Homo sapiens: one gene and its partners. The protein of the gene in region 1 purifies or fractionates together with the protein of each later gene. This does not show direct contact. Each region holds a gene or a part of one and is shown on either strand. Other genes may lie near its edges.

The links.
Region 2: the proteins of GPBP1 (region 1) and EPB41L5 purify together in Homo sapiens (affinity purification with mass spectrometry; 2 studies listed by BioGRID and IntAct, with this or other methods). This does not show direct contact.
Region 3: the proteins of GPBP1 (region 1) and OTUB2 purify together in Homo sapiens (affinity purification with mass spectrometry; one large-scale study listed by BioGRID and IntAct). This does not show direct contact.

Annotation. Positions count from the first base shown.
Region 1 is NC_000005.10:57,180,510-57,184,241, reverse strand, and holds part of GPBP1 (vasculin), read right to left. Parts: intron 1-3,732. UniProt on the Homo sapiens protein: Functions as a GC-rich promoter-specific transactivating transcription factor.
Region 2 is NC_000002.12:120,075,400-120,079,131, forward strand, and holds part of EPB41L5 (band 4.1-like protein 5), read left to right. Parts: intron 1-76; coding exon 77-121; intron 122-301; coding exon 302-354; intron 355-1,571; coding exon 1,572-1,692; intron 1,693-1,829; coding exon 1,830-1,917; intron 1,918-3,093; coding exon 3,094-3,182; intron 3,183-3,732. UniProt on the Homo sapiens protein: Plays a role in the formation and organization of tight junctions during the establishment of polarity in epithelial cells.
Region 3 is NC_000014.9:94,046,385-94,049,430, reverse strand, and holds the end of OTUB2 (ubiquitin thioesterase OTUB2), read right to left. Parts: 3' UTR 501-3,046; downstream 1-500. UniProt on the Homo sapiens protein: Hydrolase that can remove conjugated ubiquitin from proteins in vitro and may therefore play an important regulatory role at the level of protein turnover by preventing degradation.

The DNA of each region.
Region 1 (3,732 bases):
TTTTCCCTTTGAGACAGTGTCTCAATCTGTCACCCAGGTTGGACTGCAGTGGCACGATCTCGGCTCACTGCAACCTCCATCTCCCAGGTTCAAGTGATTCTCCTGCCTCAGCCTCCCAAGTAGCTGGGATTACAGGTATGCACCACCACGCCCGGCTAATTTTTGTATTTTTAGTAAAGACAGGGTTTCACCATGTTGGCCAGGCTGGTCTCAAATTCCTGGGTTCAAGCGATCCACCAGCCTCAGCCTACCAAAATTCTGAGACATGGCAGAAGCCCATCTCTACAAAAAATAAAAAATTCGCTGGACATGGCAGCACTCACCTGTGGTCCCAGCTACTTAGAAGGCTGATGTGAAAGAAAGGATCACCTGTGTCTGGGAGGTCGAGGCTGCAGCAAACTGTGATGGCACCACTGCCCTCCAGCCTGGGTGATAGAGTGAGACCCTGTCTCCAAAACAAAAAAAAAAAAAAAAAATTCATATCCCCCCCGTATTAAAAAATATTAGCTATCAACTCTTGAAATGTTAATTTTAATACAAAAACATAGACTAGTATTTCCCTTATACTACACTTTCATCGTAATTCTTTTTTTGAGATGGGGGGGCGGTTCTTGTTTGGTGCATAGGCTACAGTGCAGTGATACAATCATAGCTCACTGACATCTTAAATTCCAGGACTCAAGTGACCCTCCCACCTCAGCCTCCCAAGTAGCTGGGACTACAAGGCGCACTACTGACCTGGGCTAATTTCTAAATTTCCTGTGCTGGATTACAGGCGTGAGCCACAAGCCAAGCCCAGATTCTCAGTTTCGGAGAAAGGATAACTTAAGAGTTGTACATATGTTTGTATGTATGTATGTTTTTATTTATTTAGAGACAGAGTTTTTACTCTTGTCACCCAGGCTGGAGTGCAATGGCATGATCTCGGCTCACTGCAACCTCTGCCTCCTGGGTTCAAGCGACTCTCCTGCCTCAGCCTCTCAAGTAGCTGGGATTACAGGCATGTGCCACCACGCCCAGCTAATTTTTTGTATTTTTATTAGAGACGGGGTTTCGCCATGTTGGTCAGGCTGGTCTTGAACTCCTGACCTCAGGTGATCCACCCGCTTCAGCCTCCCAAAGTGCTGGGATTACAGGCATGAGCCACCATGCCTGGCAACTAAGAGTTTTAAAAACTTATTCTTGCATGAAAAGTGTAGGAAAAAAATTGAAATATGGCTTTAAAATATAATTTGAAAACTGAATTAAGAATTAAAGGGGGCCAGACGCAGTGGCTCATGCCTGTAATCCCAACAGTTTGGGAGGCCAAGGCAGGAGGAACACTTGAGATTAGGAGTTCGAGACTAGCCTGGGAAACATAACAAGACTCTCTCTCTACAAAATAAAAAAAATTAGCCGAGCATGGTGACATGCGCCTATAGTCCCAGCTACTTGGGAGGCTGAGGCAGGAGGACTGCTTGAGCCTAGGAGGTCGAGATGGCAGTGAGCCGTGACTGCACCACTGCACTCCAGCCTGGGTGGCAGAGTGACACTTTGTCTCAAAAATAAATAAATAAGAATTAAAGAGAAGAAGCCGAGTGCGGTGGCTCACGCCTGTAATCCCAGCACTTTGGGAGGCTGAGGCAGGTGGATCACGAGGTCAGGAGTTCAAGACCAGCCTGGCCAACATGGTGAAACCTCATCTCTACTAAAAATACAAAAATTAGCTAAGTATGGTGCCAGGCGCCTATAATCCCAGCTACTCGGGAGGCTGAGGCAGGAGAATCACTTGAACCCGGGAGTTGGAGGTTGCAGTGAACCGAGATCGCACCACTGCACCCCAGCCTGGGCGACAGAGTGAGACTCCATCTCAAAAAAAGGCCAGGCACAGAAGCTCATGGCTATAATCCCAGCACTTTGGGAGGCTGAGGTGGGCAGATCACTTCAGGTCAGGAGTTCAAGACCAGCCTGGTCAACATGGTGAAACCCCATCTCTACTAAAAATACAAAACTTAGCCAGGCCTGATGGCAGGTGCCTGTAATCTCAGCTACTAGGGAGGCTGAGGCAGAAGCAGCACTTGAGCCTGGGAGGTGGAGGTTGCAGTGAGCCAAGATCATGCCACTGCACTCCAGCCTGGGCAAGAGGGAGACTCCGTCTCAAAAAATTTATAAAATAATTAAAGGGAAGAAAATGGAAAGACCAAAAGCACTGCACCCACCAAGCTGTGAACAAAATAATAACTAAAGACCAAGAAACTAAATGACATATCTTGTATATAAAAAGATGCAGAAACTAGCAATTATCTGCAGGGTTATACAGCAAATCTGTTAACTATTGTGATGGGTGGGACAGCTGACAAAATGGGAAAAGCAAGCAGGTAAAAACTGAAAAACAGTCACAACCACAAAACAGTTTACCAGTAACCACTAACATTTTGTTTTTCAACATTTCTGTTGAAGGTAATGGACCTTTCCAGAAAAATGCACTGAAATGCCCACAAAATTATCAATTTCAAAGAATTCTCAGAAACCACTGTCTCGGCCTGGCATGGTGGCTCACACCTGTAATTCCAGCACTTTGGGAGGCCGAGGTGGGTAGAACACCTGAGGTCAGGAGTTTGAAAAGAGATGTATTCCCTGCCCCCGCACCGCCCCCCCACCTTTTTTTTAAATGTTCCCTAGGCTGGTTTCAAACTCCTGGGCTCCAGTGAGCCTCGTGCCTCAGGCTCCCAAAGTATTAGGATAATAGGCATAAGCCACCATGCCCTGCCCCCTCACCCCTTTTTTAAATAGTATTTTGTATGTCAGAGGTTCTTTTTTTTTTTTTTGACACAGTCTTGTCACCCCAAGCTGGAGTGCAGTGTCGCGATCGCAGCGCCAAAAATACCGAGGCATCCGGCCTCATCTCTTTAATTCTTATTCATTTTTGAGGCAGGGTGTCACTCTGCAACCCAGGCTGGAGTGCAGTGGTGCAATCACCGCTCACTGCCATCTCGACTTCCTAGGCTCAAGCAGTCCTCCTGCCTCAGCCTTCCAAGTAGCTAGGACTACAGGCGCATGTCACCATGCTCAGCTAATTTTTTTTATGTTTTGTAGAGAGACAGTCTTGTTATGTTTCTCAGGCTAGTCTCGAACTCCTAATCTCAAGTGTTCCTCCTGCCTTGGCCTCCCAAACTGTTGGGATTACAGGCATGAGCCACTGCACCTGGCCCCCTTTAATTCTTAATTCAGTTTTCAAACTATATTTTAAAGCCATATTTAAATTTGTTGAGGTGGGTGGATCACCTGAGATCAGGAGTTGGAGACCAGCCTGACCAACATGGGGAAACCCCATCTCTACTAAAAATTCAAAAATTAGCTGGGCGTGGTGGTGGGCACCTGTAATCCCAGCTACTTGAGAGGCTGAGGCAGGAAAATCGCTTGGACCTGGGAGGCGGAGGTTGCAATGAACTGAGATTGTGCCATTGCACTCCAGCATGAGTGACAGAGCGAGACTCTGTCTCAAAACAAAAAACCCCAAAAAAATCTTTACATCTGTATTACACTTCACAATTTACAAAAACCCTCCATATATATTTCCATCAGTATAATGAAGAAACTAAGGCCAAAAAAAGTTAGGTGAACATACAGTCACACAGGCATTTTTCTAGATATTCCATATCCTAAACCAAGTTCCCTTCCAAACCCTCAGCCATGACCCTTTTTCTACATCAGTACCTTACCTGGATCTAAACGTTACCTAAACATTGATAG
Region 2 (3,732 bases), on another chromosome or scaffold:
CAAGTTAGAAGTGTAAGATTTTTTTTCACAGTCGATTGTGCTGTTGGGTTAAATTTGTGCCTTTCATTTTTCTTAGGTATTTATTTGTTCTTCAGTTAAAACAAGATATTCTCAGTGGAAAGTGAGTATTAGTTATTTAAGGATAAATGCACATTTTCGTGAGTGGTTGAAAAATTATTTTGAAAATAAGTTTATAGTTGTAAAAAAGAAATGGTCAACATAAAACATGTATTATTTTCATTTGTCTTAAAATGAAGGTTATGAAATCAACTTGTCTAACAAACTTGTGTTTTGGTCTCAGATTAGACTGTCCCTTTGATACAGCAGTGCAATTGGCAGCTTATAATCTGCAAGGTAAGCAATTCTTATGTTGACTGTTAAGACTCAAGTATAATCTTTTTTGTGTGTGTTTTTAGTTAAAGAAGATTCTAATTATGTGCAAGAAAAGAAACAACACTGTTTTTGTATAAACTTGTATCAGGGTCCAACTCTGACTTTTACTTGTTTTAGAACATTGCCTTCTTTTTCTTCTCTTTCATGTAATTGCGCCCTTTCCACCTAAAGTGTTGAAACGTCATACTCTACCTGATAAGTCTGTAAATGCTAAGATTGGGCCTTCGGCTAACTTTTTCCTTAAAAGAAATGCAGTTATGTAGGAGTGAATTGTTGGTGAAGCCATATAGCTTAGCAGTCCTTTTGCTCCAAACCTACATTTTGTTCAGAAATAACCACAGATGAGTACATACATGTTTGTGCATTGTTCAGATTTTTCCCTGCTGCTTTCTCCCCCCGATTTTTTTTAGTTCCTTTCAGTTATTTCTTTAGGATTAATAATTTTAAAATTTTGGAAGACAGGGACTATATTTAGATTGGTATATGGGGTCATATTCAGTGTATATCAGTATATTCTTTTGTTTTGTTTTTTTTTGAGACAGGGTCTCACTCTTGTCCCCAGGCTAGAGGGCAGTTGCATGATTGTAGCTCTCTGAAGCCTTGAACTACTGGGCTCAAACGATCTTCCTGCCTGAGTAGCTGGGTCTACAGGCCATTAGGCCTGGCTAATTTTTGTACTTTTTTTTTTTTTTTTTTTTTTTTTTAGAGACGAGGTCTTGCTATGTTGCCTAGACTGGCCTGAAACCATCTTCCACCTCAGCCCTCCCAAAGTACTGTGACTATAAGCATGAACCACCACACCCAGCCTTAGTAATATTCTTAATAGATGCCAGTTAATTGTCTTTTAACGATTGCTAAATTTTTTCATTTATTCACTATAAGGTCAGAGGTATTTCTTTATGGAAGTCTAGAAAGCAGTTTTCAAAGGTTAAGTAAGCACTGAAGTGTGAATACATTAAGAGAAAGATATGTAATTAAAAATACACTACCAAAAATAAATATGAGATATATGTGTATGACTAATATGCCAGATTTACTTTTGGAGACTTGTCTGAGTATTATGAATTTTTGTAAGAAATTCCTAAGAATCTTTCTAATCTTAGCAGTTTTCATTAATGAAATGGTTTTTGAAGGATTTAGCAGGAAATACATATAACTTTTGAAACTTATGTTTATAGCTGAACTTGGTGACTATGATCTTGCTGAGCATAGTCCTGAACTTGTCTCAGAGTTCAGATTCGTGCCTATTCAGACTGAAGAGATGGAACTGGCTATTTTTGAGAAATGGAAGGAATACAGGTATCTGGCGTTTGACCATACTTTCTTTAAAATCACCACAACAGTTATTTCATATTCATTTTCTTCTGTTTCTATCCTTGGTATAGAATTTATTTTATATTTATTGTTACTTTAAAAATCATTGTTTTAAATTTCAGAGGTCAAACACCAGCACAGGCTGAAACCAATTATCTGAATAAAGCCAAATGGCTAGAAATGTATGGGGTTGATATGCATGTGGTCAAGGTAAGCATTGTGTTGTGATGCTTTTTTAAAAATTTATTCTTTGGAGGTTCGCAGTGACTGTGGAATTTTTCAGTATGAGGGAGGGCATGGAGTTTGCATAAGCTAGCACTGGGTACTTTGGATGTATGGTTAAAAAGTTTGAGATTAAATACCAAATGACTAGAATCTCACAGAAAGGTTCATTATAAGAAAGAAGAGAAGCAACCAACATCCCTAACAAGGTACTTGGTCCTTTTAAGCTGTTATTTTATTTTATTTTATTTTTTTGCTATAAAAAATTGTTTTAAGCTTTTGAGCCATTTGTTATCCTTTTTACTTCCTGTTATACGACTTACACTGAGTAGGCTCTGTTAAAATAATTCAGGATGCAAAGTTGAAGATTTATAGCTTAAAGACTTTGATAAACTTTAGAACAGCTTTGTAGTGATTTAAGTTATTTCTAGTTTAACTAGTAACATTTTTCCAGAAAGGCGGTTGTATTAGTTCATTCTCGCACTGCTATAAAGACATAAATTTATAAAGAGGTTCAATTGGCTCATGGTTTTGCAGGCTGTACAGGCTTCTCCCTCTCAGGAGGCCTCAGGAAACTTATAATCATTGGGCAACGTGAAGGGCAAACAGGCACATCTGTACATGGCTGGCAGGAGGGAGAGAGAGCAAAGAGGGAGGTGCTACACACTTTCAGACAACCAGATCTTGTGAGAACTCATTCACTATCATGAGAACAGCAAGGGGGAAGTCCGTCTCCATGATTCAGTCACCTCCCACCAGGCCCCTCCTCCAATACTGGGGATTACAATATGACACAAGATTTGGGTGTAGACATAGAGCCAAACCGTATCAGCAGTCTTTTCCAAAATACATGATTTAAGTGGTAAGTATAATATGGGAAGAATGTGGAAACAGCTTTGTTTGTAGTGGGAGTGTAACTACCCACTTTCAATGAAGATACACTTTAAAACTCTAGTGTTTCAATGACTAGAAATAAAAATATATGCATAAATTTTTCTGAGAATATTATTATGGATACTCTAATTGTTGAAAACATCTCATATATTAATATTAGCCTGTATATAATTAATACAATTCAATACAAAAATAAAATTTAAAAGTTGTGTCAATGTGAAACCTGTTTTGTACAAATAAAGCTAACACATTTTTCTCCCCTTAAATTAGGCTAGAGATGGGAATGACTATAGTTTGGGACTAACACCAACAGGAGTCCTTGTTTTTGAAGGAGATACCAAAATTGGCTTATTTTTTTGGTAAGCAAGAGTTATTGTCAAAGATACTTACTGTTGTTTTGGTTTTTAATGAGTAAATAAAGTTAATACATAAACAAGTTTGGAAATCAAATAGTTTTGAAAAACTTGTCAATGAAAGCAACTGTCTCCTGTCACACTATTACGCATCATTATTCCTACTCTCCAGAGGCAATTATTAAAACTCTTCTAGCTGTATTTCCCATTAGTTTCAAAGTATACCACAATCTATATCTTGATATAAATATTTATATTTTTATATGTATCAGATGTTCACATGGGCACTTTCTCCCTCCATGTAGTCATGTCATTGCTTTTAATATTTATTATTCCACAATCCCTTTACCCCCTATTGTGTAAGAGGAAGATACTAATATTTTTATCCCTTCTCTAAGCTGTGCTCCTTATACTGTTCCAGCTTTTATCGTTCATACTTTTAAATTACATTTATGTTTTACTTTTACATCAAGGATAGATTTTACTTGGATTTCTTGGCCATAATTGAGTCCATCAGATTTTGTCTGGTATTCTAAAAGCTGAGAATCAGGGTACT
Region 3 (3,046 bases), on another chromosome or scaffold:
CCCAGTGTCACCAGTGACCGGAATAGGAGGGGAAATTGCCCGTCTGTGAGGTCAGCTCCTGACTGACAGCTATCAGAGAATGGCAGGGAGACTCTCCATTTTCCAAATGATGCAGTGGTGGTCAGTGGGGTTAGTAAGCGGGCTTAATATCCCCTAATGGCACCTGAGCCGTGGGAGTGAAGCCACTTGCCATAAGCCAAACATAGATCCCCTGATGACTGTCCGTGTCCTGCCCTAGCCATCTAACAGCAAATTCTTTTCCTTGGTGGAGGAGCTAATACGTAGACAGGCTTTAAAAGGCAGGAGCAGCCTTCCAAGCAGTGCTACTCTCGCCTGGTAAGGTGAAGTTGGTGGGCAGAGCTTCCGGAGTGTCCTGGATCTGCCATTAAACAAGGAATATCCCTCCCCAGCTAATCTACTTAATACATAAGCACCACGGAAAAGCAGAGTTCTTGGCTGCATGCCAGGTACCCAGTATTAAGAAGCCAGGACAAAAGTAGTTATGGAAACCATTTTAATGCTAGGAGAATGTTTTTACTTACTGCCTAGGGAAGCTGTAGGGCTTGGCCCACATCCAGCAGGGCCTGGGGCCCCTGGAAGCCACTCACTGAGTTACAGCCCCCTCCCCACTCCTGTATCTGCTCAGGGTGGTGATGTGTTTGCTCCTAGACTCTCTCTCATGGTTCCCCTGACACTCCTGCTTGGGAAGCCACCGAGTCACTGCCAAGGTGACATGCTTCCCCATCTGCAGTGCCCTATGCTTCCTGTCAGGAAGGACAGGTTGGGGAATATCCCTTTGCAGAGCCCATACGATGAGTGTGTCAGGTATAATAGCTATTTTCACACAAGGAATCTCATTCTGTTTTAACCAATAATCCAGTGACACATAGGTATTGTTGCCATTTCACAAACTTGGGAATTGGGGCTCAGGGAGGTGAAGTGACTTGGCCAAGATCATACAGCTAGTAAGTGAATGCTGAAGTTAGAACCCTGGCATTCTGGCTCCAGAGCTCTCATTTGTGCTTAAAATAGGAACCCAGTCAAAAGCAGGGACTGTGCTCTTTCTGTTGCTAATTGTTCCCATTGATTTAAAAGTTTCCTTTGGAGAGAAAGTATCATAATAAACATGCAGTTGTAAAAACAAGCTCTCAAAGCAACTCTCCTTCCAGCTTTTGGTCTGGAGAGAGATGGCTCTGTGGGGTGAGGGTAGAGAATTATCCAGGAAGTGGGACTGGCCAGGGTGACTGGCTGCTGTGGACAAGCAAGGTAACATCCACAGATGACTAGAAATTTTAACAAGGTGCCAAAGCCTGCCACACCTTTTCATCCACTATGTTTTCCCTTCGAGACAAAGATCTGAGAGAGAACGTGGGGGAAACAAGGGCAATGGTTCGGATTTGGCCAGTGGTTTTTTGCAAAAAGGGGAAAAGCAGAGGGTAAGACCATGAAAGTAACTTGGCCTTCCTCTGCCAGAGCTTGAGTGTCCTGATTCTGAAGTGATAGAATAGATTCTTTTCTGGGAAGAGGGCCCCTGTGAGTTTCCGGGGGGCTCTGTGACCTGGAAGCACAGCACAGGCAAGTCTCCTAGAGGGAATTTCTCCAGCCAGTCTGCCAAACAGCTCTGCTTCTGAGGCTACCACACAAGCCACAAATACAGAGACATAGCAGCCCAGTGAGGCTTCTGCTGTGCTTGAGAGCCTAGCTGGAAGGCCCAGAGCCCACCTTACAGCCCCTTAGAACAGCCAAGGCGTCATCCAGGCTGTGTGTGTGTCCGTTCACACCTTTCAGTTGGGAAACAGGGATCCCCTGGAGACTTGTCTGGCAAAGATGATGATATTCACAAATCATGTCATGTGTTCCCCCCACGCTTCCAGTGTACTTCTCATAGACCATGGTGGGACACTGAACAAATTCAGAGGTGACAGTCAAATTTACATTCCTGTGAAAAAGTGACATAATGACTTAGCCAGAGCCTTTGGATCCAAACTCCAGCTGAGGGCAGTATGGAAACCAGGGTCCCTGCTTGGAACTAAAATCCCCTGATATCTGAGAGTGCTATTGGCTTTTCACGAAGGCAGAAGAGTGACACAAATCTGACATTTGTGTCAAGAGGACTCTGAGGAGTCTGCTACCCAGTCCTTGTGCAGTCAGGTTGTCAGCAGACTCATGCAGCAGCACCAATAGATTCCAGTAAATCCCTGCAGAATGAAACCTGTGAGAAGGTGGCCTTCAATTAAGGAAGGACCCCAAAGGGCAATTCCACACCCTGCATTTTCCATTTCCTCTTATAGAGGAAGAGAGGTTGCTAGCAGCACCTCTGCCCAGCCAGGGTGTGGGTCCCCACTGGTGCCATCTTGCCGGCCAGCCCACAGATGGAATCTTGAAGGTCCTGAGGCAGCAAGGTGAGGGGCTTATTTAAGGGGTATGGCCAGGTGGCTGAAGGAGGAAGCTGCTGGCCGGAATTCCCAGGCGGTTTCCACAGTGGAAATCTCCCCACTGCCAACTTCCCATGGCTTGTCTGTTCTTTCCCACCTACCCTCTGACCAGTCCATAAAGAGAGCAGAAGCGGGAAAGGGAGGAAGAAGCCAGGGGCAGCCTGCAAAGCGTCTGCTCTGCTCAGCTGGGTCCATGGCTGTGCGTGCCAACACTTCTATCCTTGAAGTATCCAGACTCCACTTCTAGGATTTGCTGGGGATGATGGGACAGCTGCGGCTTCCTGGTCCCAGACAGAAATACACAGATTCTGGTCCAGACCCTAGTCTTGTAAGCCTCTGTCCAGGTGGGGCTGAAAGCAGAACCCTGAAGGGCTCGTCCACCAAGAGTCAGGCAGTTCTAGCCCTGAGAGAGGTAGAGGGGCCCCAACAATTTGAGCTCCTACTAAAGGCTAAAGGCCCCTTTCTGGACTTTGGCAAAAAAAGGAAGTCTTTTTTTTTTTCTCCTTAAGTTAGGGGTAGGAAAATACATCCATCATGAATGTTTGAAACCACACCGTAGCCCTCACATTCAAGTTGACCTCAATAGGCCATCTGTCAGAGCCCAGTCCAAC